Linked DNA regions of Homo sapiens: region 1 is linked to region 2. The links come from fine-mapping of genetic effects on gene expression. A gene starts in region 2. The other region holds a variant in brackets. All regions are shown on one strand. Distances are from middle to middle.

Evidence for each region. PIP is the estimated chance that this variant, and not a neighbour inherited with it, causes the effect. A credible set is the group of variants that fine-mapping cannot tell apart.
Region 1: its variant is the best candidate, but not a certain one, in a credible set for the expression of ZSCAN16-AS1 in whole blood (TOPMed, PIP 0.75).

Annotation. Positions count from the first base shown.
Region 1 is chr6:27,947,671-27,956,212 of GRCh38, reverse strand. No RefSeq gene overlaps it. Among named protein-coding and RNA genes, the nearest start is that of OR2B6, 5.3 kb to the left of the region's middle. The variant C/T (reference allele first, on the strand shown) is at 4,590.
Region 2 is chr6:28,133,720-28,141,719 of GRCh38, reverse strand. ZSCAN16-AS1 (ZSCAN16 antisense RNA 1) reads left to right here and starts at 4,404. Exons shown (of 2, transcript NR_103456.1): 1 at 4,404-4,975. It also overlaps a transcript of ZKSCAN8 not described here. RefSeq lists an enhancer at 4,044-4,233.

The sequences.
Region 1 (8,542 bases), 190 kb after region 2:
GATTTTCAGAACTTTAAATGTCCTGGGGTTGCCAATAAAAAATGACTCTGTGAGGTAATATTTATCTTGTTCTCTCCACAACTCCAATACCATCAACTTTAACAACAGAGATAATAATAACTATCTGATGTGAAGTATAAATGTGATCTTTAATGTAAATTACCTGGTATAATGGCACACAGCAATGTGAATGAAAGTATCATATGACACAGGAACTCTGAGACATTCGGGGCAGAGGCTGTTCAGAGCCCTAAATTTGCTAAGTACTAATATAAGTCAATGCTACCAGTTAAAAATTTCCAAATCATCTATCTTGCTACCACCACCCTCTATTGTTTTATTATAATTTTGTTAGTGTAAAAATGTCAATTTAAGGATAGGATCATAAATTTTAAACTATTATTCAATATGTATTTCAATTTTGCTCACTTATTCTACAGTTCTCAGTATAAAATGGCAGGGAAAGCTTTTATAGCCTCTCAAATGAGTCCCTGCATATTATTGACAGCTGCATATTATTGACATGCTATGCAGCTGTCAATAAAATTAGGAATGTGGTATAGATATAAATTCAGATATAGATATACATGTACAAAAACATTCAAATCCTTAAGGAAAAAAACAAGTTTCTGAACATGTATTTAGCATGCTTCCATGTGTTTACATAAGGGAATATAATCATATTGGTCAGTATTCATATATGTATAAAATTACCTGGAAGTATACAGAAGTGTTAAAAGCTGTTACTTCTGGGGAATGGAAATGGAAAGAGGGAGAAAAATCAGATTTTGATATTTAACTTTATCCTTGCTTTTTCTAATTTTTAACAAATATAATGCTTTTTATTATTAATAAAGATTATTATGTATTATATAATAACTTTAAGTGAGGACATATTCATACTGTATGTTTTACTATAAAGACAAGCATTGCTTTAGACTTTATAACTGAAACAATCTTATATGAATTTAGACTTTTATCTCAACAAATTTTTAAAACAGGATCTACATTAATCTACATGGACATTTTCTAAAGACTGGAATGCAAGGGCATTGGGCATTCGGCATCTTATTGACAAAAAAAAATCAAAAAGAGTTGCCACTCATTATAGGAATTCTGAAAAGCAGAACAAATGGAATCCATAAAAAGAGATTTCACAAGTTCACAATTTCCTTGAATTAACAAGTGTTGGAAAATACCCTCAGTCTATATAATTAGGGTCACTGCATATCTCAGTTTGCACAGGACTGCGAGTTTACTCCTGCTGTTCTGACACAATTACTAATAGAACCCTTCAGTCTTCAAAAGAGTTCATGTTTGGGTGATAAGTTATAAGGTCTCTCTAGCTGTAATATTGGAGACTAAAATAATTTTCAAATTATTGTTCAAGAGATACCTCATCACTGAGGACACTGCATATGCTTTCTCCTTACTTGGGCCAGTGGCTTTCCCTGACCAGCCCTGTATCTGGCATTTCTCTGCTAGAATACAGCCAAAAACAAACTCTCCAAGAAGCCCTGACTAATGAAAATTCTAGAAGGGAGGAATTCAATTAACTTCTACTCTTTCTCACTGAGGTTCAGCAATTACAAAAGTATTAAATGCACTTCTGTTATAGGTAATGTCCATGATCCACAGCAGTGAGGGAAATTTTGCCCCAAATTTCTCCTGCATGAGAACAAAAGTACTGGGGAGACTGTAGTACAACTCATTCTTATATTCTGCTTTGCTAACTTTTGGGGCAAAATTTCCCCATCTTTCAAATATCCAGTAACCTCTTTACATATCCACTCTAAAAGAGAGAACTTTTGTTAAAAAGTTGAAAAATTGTCTGGGTGTGGTGGCTCACGCCTGTAATCCCAGCATTTTGGAAGGCTGAAGTGGGTGGATCACCTGAGGTCAGGAGTTCAAGACCAGCCTGGCCAACATGGTGAAACCCCTTCACTACTAAAAATACAAAAATTAGCTGGGCATGGTAGCACACACCTATAATCCCAGCTACTCAGGAGGCTGAGGCATGAGAATCACTTGAACCTGAGAGATGGAGGTTGCAGTGAGCTGAGATAGTGCCACTGCACTCCAGCCTGGGCAACAGAGTGAGACTCCATCTCAAAAAAAAAAAAAAAAGTTGAAATATTATCTTGCACACAGAAGTTTCAAGTAATTTGAATTGTTATTCTTATCACTATCATTGGATTGGAAGGACTTGTTAACAATGGAAACAAGTAGGAATCTTGTATCTCTGAAATCCTCGCAGATAGCATAACCAATTATTTACCTGATTACACCTGTGCTGATGGTGGTGCCCAGTCATGGCTGAGATCGCAAAAGGCTACACAATCTATTTCTCTGGTCCTGAATAGAATTCTGTTTACAGCATCTTCAGAGGATATCATTCTCATTTTGAGTTAACGAGCTTTCCTTTGGTCAACATAGGAACATATTTTCATAATGTGAGACAAAAGGGATCAGATTGCATAGCAACTATCTTACAACTGCAGGTAAGAAAAAGTGAGTATTGGGCCAGGCACAGTGGCTCCTGCCTGTAATCCCAGCGGGAAGCTGGGGCTGATTGCTTGAGTCTGGGAATTCCCAGCATTTTTGGGAAGCTGAGGCAGATCGCTTGAGTCCAGTCCAGCCTGGGCAACATGGCAAAACCCTGTCTCTACCAAAAATACAAAATTAGCTGAGTGTGGTGGCATGCGCCTGTAGTTTCAGCTACTCAGGAGGCTGATGTGGGAGGATTGTTTGAGCCCAGGAGGTTGAGGCTGCAGTGAGACATGATCGCACCACTGCACTCCAGCCTGGGCAACAGAGACCCTGTCTCAAAACAAAACATAACAAACAAAGCAAAAACAAAATTGAGTACTGTAAAAAGCAACAGTTGAAAAGGGTTATTTGGACCTTTAGAACTTTTATCTATACATAACTCAGGATATTTCAATTTTATTGTCTGAATAAATACAATCACCACCCGTTTGCTTGTATATTAGTTGGGATTGCATCCATCAGCTACATACTGAAGTTATTCAGTATATGGCTGACAGAGGATTCTGAATGACGAGGTTCAACAAAGTCCTGAAAACTTTATTTTAAGCTGTTTACTATGCAGTGAGCATTGAGATAAGAAATATGACAACAGCTGTAGTTTAGATGCTGCTACTAAGTCACTTCACTACTGGGCAAGTTACTCAATGGCTTTGGGAAGCAGTTTAATCTATGGTAACACCAGAGTTTTCTGTTTTCCATTCGACATAAAAATTGTTTGCTTCTAAGTTTTCTATAATTATCATACCTCTGAGAATGTATAAAAAGCTTTAAATATACTACAGTGAACCCCCATGTTCCTGCTGGAGTATAAGGATAAATACTAGGAGTAATTTTTCACACAACAGTGCAATTTGGCTTAGAATAGATGAAAAGTTTGCCAATATTTTTTGTCTGTTTCACAAAAGGTTAATTATTCAGGTAGAAATCTGAATTTAGAGGTTCAGAGAGATTATTTTCATAGGCTAGATTATTTTCATAGGCAGACAGAAGGTTCAAATCTAAGACTGCTCTGCTCTCAAGTTTTAATTTCCAGTAGAGATAACAAAACATTGCAAATAGCAGTATAAAACAAATAAATGGAATTAAGAAACTGGAGCCTTAGTCAAATTTTTCTGAGTGAGATAATCATAAACGTCCATAAGTGCTCAAAACACCCAAATTTTAGCAGGTTTTATATAATAAATTTCTTAAATGTGTTCTACATACCTCTATTTTAAGCATTAGTGATAGGATGATTTGTGTGTCCAAGAAGCTTTAAATTCAAATAGGATGAACTGGAGGCATGTGGATTCAATAACCTCTTCGTAAGCTATTAATTGTAAAAACTGATATGGTGAAGTTTGTTCATTTTTCCCTTGTTTCACGCTGTAAGTGGCAAATTATAAGATATCCATTCAGGATTAATTTAGAAAATATGAGAATAGGTACAAAGCATTACAGATGATCAGACATGTTTTTCTGATATTATATTACCAAGTATGAAGGTATTTATTGATCTTTCCAGAATTCTCCTCACCAGGTTTACAAAATAAATGAGAGGGATAGGAAACTATTTTTGAATGTCGGGTGTTCTCTGGCTTACAGGGGAAGATAACAACCCTCATGTGGTTTATGGTAATTGACCATGGTATCTGATGGGAAGAGAGAAGGAGGAGATCTCTGTGATGTGATACTTCATTTTAGTTTAGATTTGCTCCCTGATACCCTTTCTCTGGGGATTGTCTCCTCAATTGTTTCTGAGACAAAAGGGAACGACAGCAGGGACTAAAATACTTTATCAAATAAAGTCTGGATTTTGTGCCATTAAACTGAGTGTTCGTTTCCTTTTTACTAATCAAGTTCTGTCAAGCCACAGAAAACTGTCCATTTACTCTGAAATCCTGAGGTCAGTATCTATGCAATAAAATAGGCTTCCAGTTAATTTGATGTAGAAATATTTTTACCTTGATTTACATAAAGTAGTTTTCTTCATTATATATCCAAATAGGCTTCTTTTCTTTCATAGATTTTGAATTTCTAGCCTTAGTTGAAAAGCTCTT[C/T]GGGTCAATGTAATTTCCTAGATTTTTTTCCAAGATTAAAAAGAGATTTATATTTTTCTATAGTTTTTCTATACAGGATTTGTTTTTATACATTCTAATATATAGTTTCCTCAGCTTTCAAGGATGAGTAGATATGAGAAAATATATTTGTGGTTATGTAAAAGGTTGGTATCTACAATATAAATAGAGTTTTTATAAAGCCCAAGAAAAACACAAATAACACAATTGAAAAAATGCTAAATAATATGACCATATACATACTGTGAACTCAGAATAGCAAATCTATATAAGATTTTAAATTCCCAAATATTCAGACAAATATATTAAAGTAGTAATGATGAGTCACTTATCAGATTGAAAAAACAATGTAACTAGCAGTAACTCCTGAATGTTGCTGAAGGAAAAAACCTCTCATAAATTATGGTTAGAAATTCAAAGTGTCACTGACATTTTAGAAATAAATAGGGCAGTTAATCTTGAAAAAAATACTCTGTTCATCAACATAGCAATGGCATTCATGGAAATCTATCCTATGGAATAAAATATACTGGTACACAAATCGTAGAAACAATAATTTTTATTGTAGCAATGTTTGTGGTGGCCAAAGTAGAGAAAAAATTAGTTTCTCAATAGGAAATTGACTAGTAATTAACCTAATCCAGAAGTATTTGCCTGTGATGTTGCTGAGTGAGAAAATGAAGATGTAAAAAAGAATAAATAACATGATCTTAATTATATAAACAATGACTAAAACACTCTCAATATAACTGTATGTATTGTGCGCCTGCATGGAATTATACGAGAGTGAAGAAGAATAAAGAACACTTGTTAGCTCCTTCATGTGGGCAATCTGGAGCACAGAGGCTGATAGCTGTGAAGGGAGAAGGAAGGGGCATCAAGTAAACCAGGGAAAAAGACTAAGATGTAATCCACAAAAAATAATGTATAGCATTTAAAACCTTCCCAAACTAATAACAGTGCTTATCTCTGAAAGTAAGAGTGAGCGTGAGGGCGGGATTAGTCAGAGGAAAATGTTTATAATGTTGGATTTTCTTTTTTCTCATAAATGCTTACAATAGATAATTTAAATAAAGGCAATAGTATTTAAAGAAAAAAAAACAGAGGGCTAAACAAATAAGAAAATAAAGACAAATCTTTAGTTTGCAGAGTGAACCAAGGTAAATAAACTAAAAAAATTCAGTAGTCCTTAAAGTGAAAAATTAAGAAATAATGCTCAGTTATCAAAGGGACTGGAAACAGGGAAGAATCTGTAGTTTAATAATAATAGTATCAATGTTTACTATGCTTACAATGTCCTATAAAATTGCTACACTTTATCTTTATTTTTTTAATGTGGAAATGGAGGCTTAGAGAGGTTAAACAAACTTTCCAAAATTAACATAATTTGTTAGAAAGCCTAGATATACTATGAATCTACATTTTGGTTTAAGTTTAATTTCTCCTCTTTGACTAATGCTTAAGGATGATTCTTGCCAAACTCAACACTCCCCACTTACTCTAATTTCCCAGAGGACCACTTACTTGATTAGTAGTGAAAGATCTCTTGAAACAATATAACTATAATTTTGTGTATTAATTTCTGACCATCTAATCAATTACCTCTCCTTATATCAGAATGAAATAGGCTTGGCTACAGTAATATTTTAGTGACTAGCCTTGGGGGTTGGATCAGTCAGGCTTAGCTCTCAGGAAGAACTTTGTATATAAGAGGGAACTGAGCATTGAGAAAGACAGTTTTAATAGTACTTTAGGAAACACCAAGTATTAAATATTTGAGAGACTAAGTAAAAATTTAACATGTTCTGAAGCAAGGCTGATTTGCAGTATAAATTAAAGTAGGATACCCAAACCTCATTCTTAGTTTACATTTTCCCTTTTATGATGGGAAGGTCAGCAACATCATTATGTTTAGTATGTAGAAGCTCAGATAAAACTTGGAGCATTCTTGGATTAGATGGGTTTCCATGAACTGATATTATGACTCAACAAATTTTAATTACTGCCCCCAAAATTAGAGTGGGCATGATTCTGGAAGAATTCAGGCCTTTTCATAAATGTAATCTTGGTATCTTATACCTGTATATTGGGTATATGTAGAGTTCAGGCAGGGTCTAGCTAGGCCCCCAAAAGCAAGGATTCAAGAATGGAAGCTAGACACAAATGCATAGGAAAATTTGGAAAAGTGTGACATTGAGAACCTTACAGAACTTAGTGGTCTTAGAAATAGTATTCTAGTTTGTGAAAGCATAGGAATGTGTGAATGTTTTAGTGGGGGAGCTGAATAAATCCTTAGCAATATTTATCTCATTCTGATGCCCATATTTGGTTGAAATATACTTTATGTTATTCTTTGCACTGAATGTTTTGCAAAAATTATTGAGTGGAAATAAGTTCTTTCATGTATATATATGATGAATGCACTGTGGAAAGGAAAAGTAATGAGGTAGAACATAATGTTTTATATAAAATTCTGTCTTGCAAATTTGCTGAAAATTAGAATCAAATTCTATGTCAATAAGGCAGGTGAGCCAGTTGTATTTTCTGTAAAAGAAATTCTATAACAGCAGAAAAGGCTGAAGATGTTGGCTCACATTAAGAGGAAATGAGGGTGGTGTGGGGAGATGCTGAAATTCTACAATTATAAAAACCTTCCATACTGAAATTCATAAGAATAATGATTTTAAAACAGTGAATAGTAAGATCACGTGATAAGAGAAATATCTGGAGTAACCGAAGACAACAATAAGGTTTCCTTCAAAACAGGACAGTCAAATTAGTGATTCACTTAATTTGATGCTGCAATTATCAAAAAGAAGTTATTTGAGTACAAAGATAAAAGTGTTCTTTTGAGGCTTCCTTTTAAAAATACCTCCTGTAGTAAAATCTGTCATTTTTATTGTCACAAAATCTTGATCAAATTGTCTCCCCATTTCATTTTACTATTTATCTGTTGCTGATATGTATAGATACAATTGATTTTTGTGCATTGATCTGTTTTCCAGTGACCTTCATGAACGCATTTAATTAGTCTAATAGTTTCTTTGTAGACTCTTTTGCATTTGAACACACACAATCATGTCATTGGGAAAAAAATGATAATTATACTTCTTTCCATTTCTAGTGTATTTTATTTATTTTTCTTGTCTTATTACACAAGCTAGGACCATCAGTATAATGCCAAAAAGAAGTGATGATTGTGGGCCTCTGTGTCTCATTCAATACCTTATAGTTGTGTATGATGTCTGCTGCAGGTTTCTTGTAAGTATTCTTCATCAGCTTAAGTGAGTTTTCACTGTATTCCTAGTTTGCTAAGATTTAAATAGGGGTTTGATTTTATCAAATGCTTTGTCCAAATCTGTAGAGATTTGCCAAATTTTTTTAAAAAATTGATAAATAGTACGAAATGATTTTCAGATGTTACACCACTCTATCCTGCGATAAACAACACGAGTGCAATATGCTATACTTCTTGTATAACACTAGATAAAATTGGTTAACAAAATTGTTTAGGATTTTTATATCTAGGCTCACAAGAGATTGGTCCCTAGTTTTCCTTTCTTGCAATGTCCTTATCAGATTTGGTATTTAAATTATGGTGGCCCTACAAAAGGAGTCATAAATTGTATCTGCTATCTATTTTCAATATAATACTATGGAAGAAATAACCACAAAATCCCTGGGACATCCAAAAATACTTATTTTTGCTTAGAAGTCCCTGGTTTAGCTGAGTGGTTCAGCTCCTCAGGTCTCATTCATGTGTCTGTGGACAATACAGTTTGGCACAATAATTTTACTAGCCTTGGCTGAAGCATCAGTTGAGAAAGAAAACTGGGCTAAAATAGCTCTACTCAGTGTATGTCATTTTTCACTTTGCTATCCTGAGCATGTTCTCAAGATAAAATTGGAGAAGCATGAAAGAGAGTTGGAAGCAG
Region 2 (8,000 bases):
CTTGCGCTGTCGCTGGGGCAGTGAACGTGCTGGGGAATAACGGACCTTGGTGTCCCCTCCGCCTTGTGTGCCCATGCAGCTCCGCGCGCTCGCTGTCAATAGTAACGGTCCCCTGGGGGTAGATATCGGACGTGGGGAGGCTGGAGCTGTGAATAGGAGGCTGGGAAAGTGTTGGAGGAGGGAGCACTTCATGGATCCTTAGGATTCCAACTGGATTCGCGTTTGGCTCCGTTACATACCCTGTACTTTACTGTTCTCGATTCATAAACATATCCAGACCTCTCACATAGAGTACAAACTTCATGAGGAATTCCTGCTAATCACAGTTCATAGTTTTGTGAAATCCCTATGGCATGGCACTTAGGAATAGCATATTTTATTAAGTATTCAAAAAAATCGTAATTAAATATATATTCTTTTTGGATCTTTACATATTTCCCACTCTTTCCTATCTTAATGAATTTCTATCGCTTACAGCATCTGCTTTGCTGCTTAGCTGTTTTAATGCTAAACCTATGATGTAAGCTTGAAGAGTAGACCCTAGGTTTAATACCACAAGATATGGGGAACAAATCTATGTTCATTCTTTCTTTGTTAGTCTTTTTTTCTTTTTTTGCCTTTTTTTTTTTTTTTTGAGACAGGGTCTCTATTGCAGAGTGTAGTGGTGTGATCATAGCTCACGGCAGACTCAACCTTCTGGGCTCAAGCAGTCTTCCCACCTTAGCCCCCCAAGTAGCTGGGACTACAGGTGTGCACCACCCTCAGCTTAAAAAAGAAAATTTGTAGAAACGGGGTGGCGGGGCGGGGCGGGGGTCTCACTATGTTGCCCAGGCTGGTCTTGAACTCCTGGGCTCAAGTGATCCTCCTGCCTCAGTCTCCCAAAGTCCTCGGATTACAGGCATGAGACACCACCCTGGCCCTGTGTTCATTCTTTACAGACCTGTTGCATTAGAGCTTTTTAACTTTTGAGACTAATAGGATTTCAGGGGTGGAGGTTGTGGCAAGTGTTATTTTTTGTTGTTTAAGTCTCATGTATTTATTTCCTTCAGCACCTTTCCCAACCACCTATTATTGAGTTCTCAGGGCTCCTCCAATTTTCACCTTAATTTCCCTCTTTATCTGCTCCTGCTGGTAGCCACCACCAACATTTCTATCCCTTCCCAATTACTAACTCCCCAATATTTTGCGTACTGACAAAGTCGTTTTGATTTAAGGGTTTTGTCATCTAATTATCACATGAAAACAAGTAAATAATAGTAAACACTGGGAAGCTACAGTGCTTCTGGACTCCTTCAAAGTAATTATTTTTGCTTTTTATTTCACAGCTGTTGCTTTCCACCTGGGATGGTAACTGGAAGTAACTGGTGACAGACTAGAACTCTACTTTCAGTTTCTTTTTTCACATTTTAAAAGTAACTTTTTTGGCTGAGCGCGGTGGCTCATGCCTGTAATCCCAGCACTTTGTGAAGCCGCGGGAGGATCACCTGAGCTCAGGAGTTTGAGACCAGCCTGGCCAACATGGCAAAAACCCATCTCTGCAAAAAATACAAAAATTAGCCAGGCATGGTAGTGGGCTCCTGTAGTCCCAGCTACTCCAGAGGCTGAGGCGGGAGAATCGCATGAGCCTGGGAGGCAGAAGCTGCAGTGAGCTGAGATCCTGCCATTGCACTCCAGCCTGGGCAATAGAGCAAGACCCTGTCTCAACATAAATAAACAAATAAATTTTTTTTAAGTCTGAAGTTGTGCACATATGTAGTTGTACAAATTCAATGTGCACACAACTATGACTGCACATACTATGTACAAAGTTGTGTACACATAGGAAGTAAAATAGCGTCATGCCATAGGTAGTTTTCTCAAACTGGACACACAGACACTGATTGTAATAGATAAAACTGATAAATTTGACTTCAAAATTTTAAACTTAAATTCTCATCAAAATTTAAATCTTCTCAAAAAAAGCACCATTAAGAAAGTGAAGAAAAAGCTACACACTGAAAAATATTTGTAATACATCTATCTGACAAAGAACTATCCAGAATATATAAAGAACTCTCACAATTTAATGAATAAGATAATTCAACACCAATAGGCAAAAGATTTAAACACTTTCTTTACAAAAGATAAAAGAATGGCCAGTATGCACACTAAAAAGTAACCATTATTCATCAGGGAAATGCAAAGTTAAAACCTCAATGAGTTACCACCACATATCCGTTAGAATGGTTGATAATATCGCCAATTTCTAAGTTATTCAGGCTTGAGAGGCTTCCTTAGTTTACTCAATGAAACATGGAGATAAAGGAGAAATTATCAGAGCCAGATTTCTCCTTTGAAGTGTTACTTTTCTCCATTAATATAACCACCATCCTCAGTTCTAATTACTTCACACCTATGTGACTGCAACAGCCTTGAGATAGCCTTCCTAACTATACAAGACGTGGTCCTTAAATATCATTATCATTCTTCCAATCACTGACCCTGAGTGGTTCCTTATCTCTAAGTAAAATTTAAACTTCTATGCTTGCCTTTTATTTTTTGTATTTTTAAAAATAAATGAAACATGATAAAGATTAATATTATATAAAATTCTTAAAAGCTGACATCTCCACCCTCAAATAGTATTTACCTAGAATGTTGGGAGATAATTCTTTAATGGCTTCTCAAATTACTCCTAGTCTTATGGTAGATTTTTCTTTGAGGTTAGGTTTTCAAGGATGTTTGTATCTCCTTCTAGATCACAGTTGTTTCCTGACCAGGATAATAAAGATAATGGCTCATTCTGGGGCAAGGCTGAGCAAAGGTTGGGCTTCCTAAGCTTGGCATTCCTCTGCTAGGTTGCAAACCCACTGTTCCATCCTAGCAGGGGAATGCCAAGCTTAGGCCCCTCTGTGGGCTTTGGGAACATAAGCTTTGGGAACAAGGGAATATAAAGCTTATGATGCCTGTGTTATTAAGTAATAAAGTCTTCTGTCTCTGACGCAGGAGTCCAGTGTCTTCTGTTAGTATCCATAAAACTGTGGCAAGTTAAATTGTTAGCTTGCAAGTAGGGTAAAAGTTTCACAATTTTCAATATGGGGTAATCACTGTTAAGTTTGGAGTGCATCCTTTTCTTGTACAAATACCCCACAAATTATATCTATATAAACAAATTTTTTCAACAAAAATGGAATATATATTGTTCTGACACTCCTTTTGTCATTTGAACGGTTGAAAGGTATTCCTCAATAGCATATGTCATATGTAATTCTTCCGCCATTGATTTACATTGATAAACAAGTGTTTTCCTTTTTTTCTACCACTAGCGTCCTGTCTGCCTTTTATTGCCTTCCAGAATGACCTTCTCCCTATCCCATACCCCTGGTCATAATTCCCCTGTACCCCCAAGTCAAAGGACTTATCTCATTGCTCACTACTCAATCTAAACACTCGTCTATTATTCTAATAACCCCCTCTCAAGACTTTATTATTCGATTTTGCACTGATCACATTCTGTCTTATATTACTTGCTATGTTGCATTTGCTGTCAATAGATTAAAGCTTCCATAGTTGAGGTGTCGGTTCTGAGATCTCCTTCCCAGTTGCAGTAAGTGGCAGCCCTTGAAATATGCAGATGTGCCATACATTTCTGACAGGAAGAGTGGTTTGCCTTTTTTTGTCAAGTAGCTAATCAATCTGATTCATCCTCTCCCTGCAATTCTAGTCTTATTCAATAATTCCTTCTGCTTAGGTAGGTCCTCATTCACCCATGTACTTATCAAGCACCCACCATGTGACAGATGCCAAGTGAGGTGAAAGTGCTGGGATGAGCACCTCTGTGGATCTCACAATGACCATCCATCTTTTGCATCCTTCTTGGTTTTTCCTTTACCCAAGTCCTGCACTTCACTCTTTACCCGTGCTTCAGAAAAGCGGAAGTTGGTTAATTAATTCCATTTGTCTAACACGGATGAGAGTGACAGCAGACAAGGGGAAAGGCAGGGAAATTCCCTTAGACTGTTCTTACATGCACTCTCACACTTAATAGTCAAAGCCACCCTATGAAATAGACACTACGTTATTAGCCTGAGTTACATAAACGAGTAAACAGAGGCTTGGAGAAGTTAAAAATAAATTGCCCTCAGTCCTAACTGGAGAGTGGTGGAGTCAGAATTTGAATCCAGGTTTAAAGAATTCTAGTGCCGGCACTCTGCACCTATTTCTCTTTGGACACTCATTTCCCCTAAGGATCAGAGAAGCTCAAAGTAGGCCACTTTTCGTCTCCGTAAGTCCGCAAGGTCCTGCGAGATCACAGTGAGCAGGGCACCAGCAAATACAGTCTGCGACCGCGAGACGTAAAGGGAAGAACGCTCCTCGGCACCCCTCCCCAGTCTATCCTAAAGTCAAGAACGTCCGAGCCCGCCTTTCTCCGGGGGCGGGCTGCAATAAAACAGCAAAATCCTCCATTCCCCATCAGCGGTCGATTGGGGGCTCTTTCGAAGCGGCAGCTCTGTAGGACCGCTCTTCTACCCCAAGATCCCTCGGCTTCGGCCCCCTAGGTGCCAGGGTCTGCGGGACCCCACGCTCAAAGCCGCCGGCCGGGGTCGACAACTGCAGAGAGGGTCGGGATAGGAAATTGCGGGTAGCGGCAGATGCGGGTCCCCAGGCATCCCGGAGGTTCCCACAGGTCTGCAGTGGGCCTACTTTGCGAAAAGGGCCCGGCTGCGCCGAGCCTCGTTCAAATCAGATGCCAGACAGTGTTTCTTGGGATCCATCCAAATAGGTCCCTTATTTCTCTTTGTGGGAGCCCTGGGCCTCCTTCCAGGCCGGAACCCAAGTGCTTAGGCAGCCGGGAAAGGCCGGTCCCCTTTTTCAGTTCTCTCGCGACCTCTAGCCACTTCCGGTTGCTAACGGTTCCCAAACAGCCCCCGAAAACGCTACGTGAGCTGGGCCCTGGGCCAGAGGCAGAAAACGGACGGAAGAAAAGGTCTGGCCGGTGAGTGTCAGAGTGAGGGCGAGATTGGGTGGTGTTCTCTGCCGGTGGATAGGCTCGACCGTCCGGTTTGGGATTGGGGTTAGGTATTAGGGAGCGGTTCAAAATTATGCTAATTGTTAAGATTACGAGTATTATTTAAAAAGATACACAACAGCAACAATACAATGAGCCCACGAAGATCAAATGCCAGTTAACTGATTTAAGCAGCTTTGATAGGAAGAAAATGCTGAATTTAATGCTAACAAAAAGATCTAAGTGCGCTGTTAGGGGCTAAGACTTTAACATTATGGGCCAGCCACTGTTCTAAACCCTTCACATTTGGTCACTCATTTAATTCCTACTTTATGAGGTAGATATCATTATAATACTGTTTTACAGATGGGGAACCTGAGGCACAGAGAGAAAAATGTATTAGCCAAGGTCATATAACTAGTAACTGGCAGAACAAAGATTCATACCCAGGCATTCTTCCTTTAAATTCTGTACTCTGGCCTTTCATTGATAACCTGGTTTTATCAGCTTAGGAAATTTGCTATCCAGATGGAAGTATAAGTTTCTACAGAGATATGTTATTGCAGCAGTGTTCTGAATCTCATCGGGTTTGTTGGCAATTTGCCTTTCAACAAAGGGTTTTTTTTTTTTTTTTTGATAAGGGTGGCTTCCACAGAGATTTAAGGAGAACAATAAAAATTTTCATTTTAATAAATAAGCCCCATTTCAACGTCCCTTCTCCTGTATCATTCCTCTGATTCTTCTCTGTCGTTATTTGTTTCTATTAGGTTAAATCATTTTACATTTCTGGTATTTAACCATTTTGACCCACAAAAACAGGGATTTCATTTGTTTAACCTAATACAGAAACATCTTTTCAAGCAGAATTTAGGAATCTACAACAATGAGCAAGATTATATTTTCATCTCCAAAATGTACGTTAAGTCTGTTTGTTTCTCTTTATATCCACTGTGAACCCATGGTCCATGCCACTACCTTCTTTCACTTGGGTTACTACAGTAGCCTCTGGACTGATTTCCTTACTTCTGCTCTTTTCTCATTCTTGCCTCTTTAAGGAGCCAGAATGATCTTTTCTAAACAAACATTGGATTATGTTCCTCCCTTCTAGTAGTTCCCCATCACGTTTAGAATACACATCCTGGCCCCTGTTCACCTCTCTAACCTAATCTTGTGTCACCTTCCCCTTAATCCAGTGCTTTCAACACGTGGCCTTTTTCAGTTCCTGTAACACACCAAATTCATCCCTATTCAGAGACTTTGCATTACCTCTCCCTTTCGTGTGGAATGGTTTTCTGCAGAACTGAAGGTCAGTTCTATCTAATAAATAGGAATATAATGGGATTCACCTATGTAATTTAAAACATTCTTATTAATAGCCATATTAAAAATGTAAAAAGACAGGTGAAATTATCTTTAGTTTAAACCATCATATCCAAAATATTACTATATCAACATCTAATCAATATAAAAATTATTAATGAAATATCCTATATTCCATTTTTTGAAAGCCAGTGTATTTATACTTATTGGACATCTCAATTCACATATTTTCATAAATAATCTATATTGAGATTACATAAAATTTAAAATAAAAAAATAGATTCACATATCCAAATTATTTCAAACATACTTAAAAGTTATCTAGTGAATTATGAGTTTTAAAGTTTAATTAAAATTAAAAATTTAGTTCCTCAGTTGCAGAGCCAAATGTACCTCGTGGCTACTACACTGGACAGCACAGATTTAGATCAAGGATAAAATGTCTATATTCATGATTGGGTCAAGGGGCAAAGAAGAAAATTGCACCAGAAGTGTGGCAAGGAGGGAAGGGGAAGGTCTGCAAAAATGCAGTGTAAGCTGTTTATGCAAGTCACATTTAAGTCACATTACTAGTCCTCACTAGTAAATGAGGTAAGGCTTTCTAAAGTAGACTACTTTTTAGCATCAAGGCTGCATAGATTTTAGGTATGTTGGGAATAATTTTCTGGGGTAGGAAAAGGGTCCAGTAGTGCTGGTCACATGTAGCATTTCTTTCTTTCTTTTTTTTTTTTTTTTTTTTGAGATGGAGTTTCTGCTCTTGTTGCCCAGGCTGGAGTATAATGGCACGATGATCTCGGCTCACCGCAACCTCCGCCTCCTGGGTTCAAGCAATTTTCCTGCCTCAGCTTCCTGAGTAGCTGGGATTACAGGCATGCACCACCAGGCCTGGCTAATTTTGTATTGTTAGTAGAGACCCTGACCATGATGGTCGGGATGGTCTGGAACTCCCGACCTCAGATGATCCACCCACCTCGGCCTCCCAAAGTGCTGGGATTACAGGCTTGAGCCACTGTGCCCGGCCACATGTAGCATTTCTAAGTAGAATTTTATTGTGTATGATGTGGAAGAGTCGTAGAAATCTGATTATTTTCCTATAGAGCAGGGGTTCTCAACTGGGGGTGATTTTGCCTCTCAGGGGACATTTGCCTCACTCAGCCTGCCCACCAAATTGCCTGGAGACATTTTTGGATATCACAAGTGGGAAGTGCTAGTGACATCTAGTGGGTAGACGCCAGGGATACTGCTAAACATCCTACAGTGCAGAGGACAGCCCCTACATCAAAGAATTGTCTGGCCCAGAATGTCAATAGAAATAGTTTCTCAAGGTTGAGAAACCTTGCTCTAGAGGATCTGAATAAGAAAGACTGACATACCCACTCTTTTAAAACCTCAGCCTAACTCCCTTGTGATATTACCATGGGAAAAACAGGTTGTTTTGAAGCATTTCAGTTTCCATTTGTTTCCACTGTTGATGGATTTTGTGATCAGACTAAAATAGAATAATTTCATGCTCAAGATGAGAATGTAGACCATTTAATAAAGATAATATAGTGTGTGCTGTACACGTAAGACTCAAAGCACCTTGGGATCAGGAGCTGGTCTTTTTACCTTTATATGGCTTGTATCATATGATCCACTGTCTCCAACAATTGATGCCAATATATTAGAATCACTTGTCTATCTTTCCTATCTC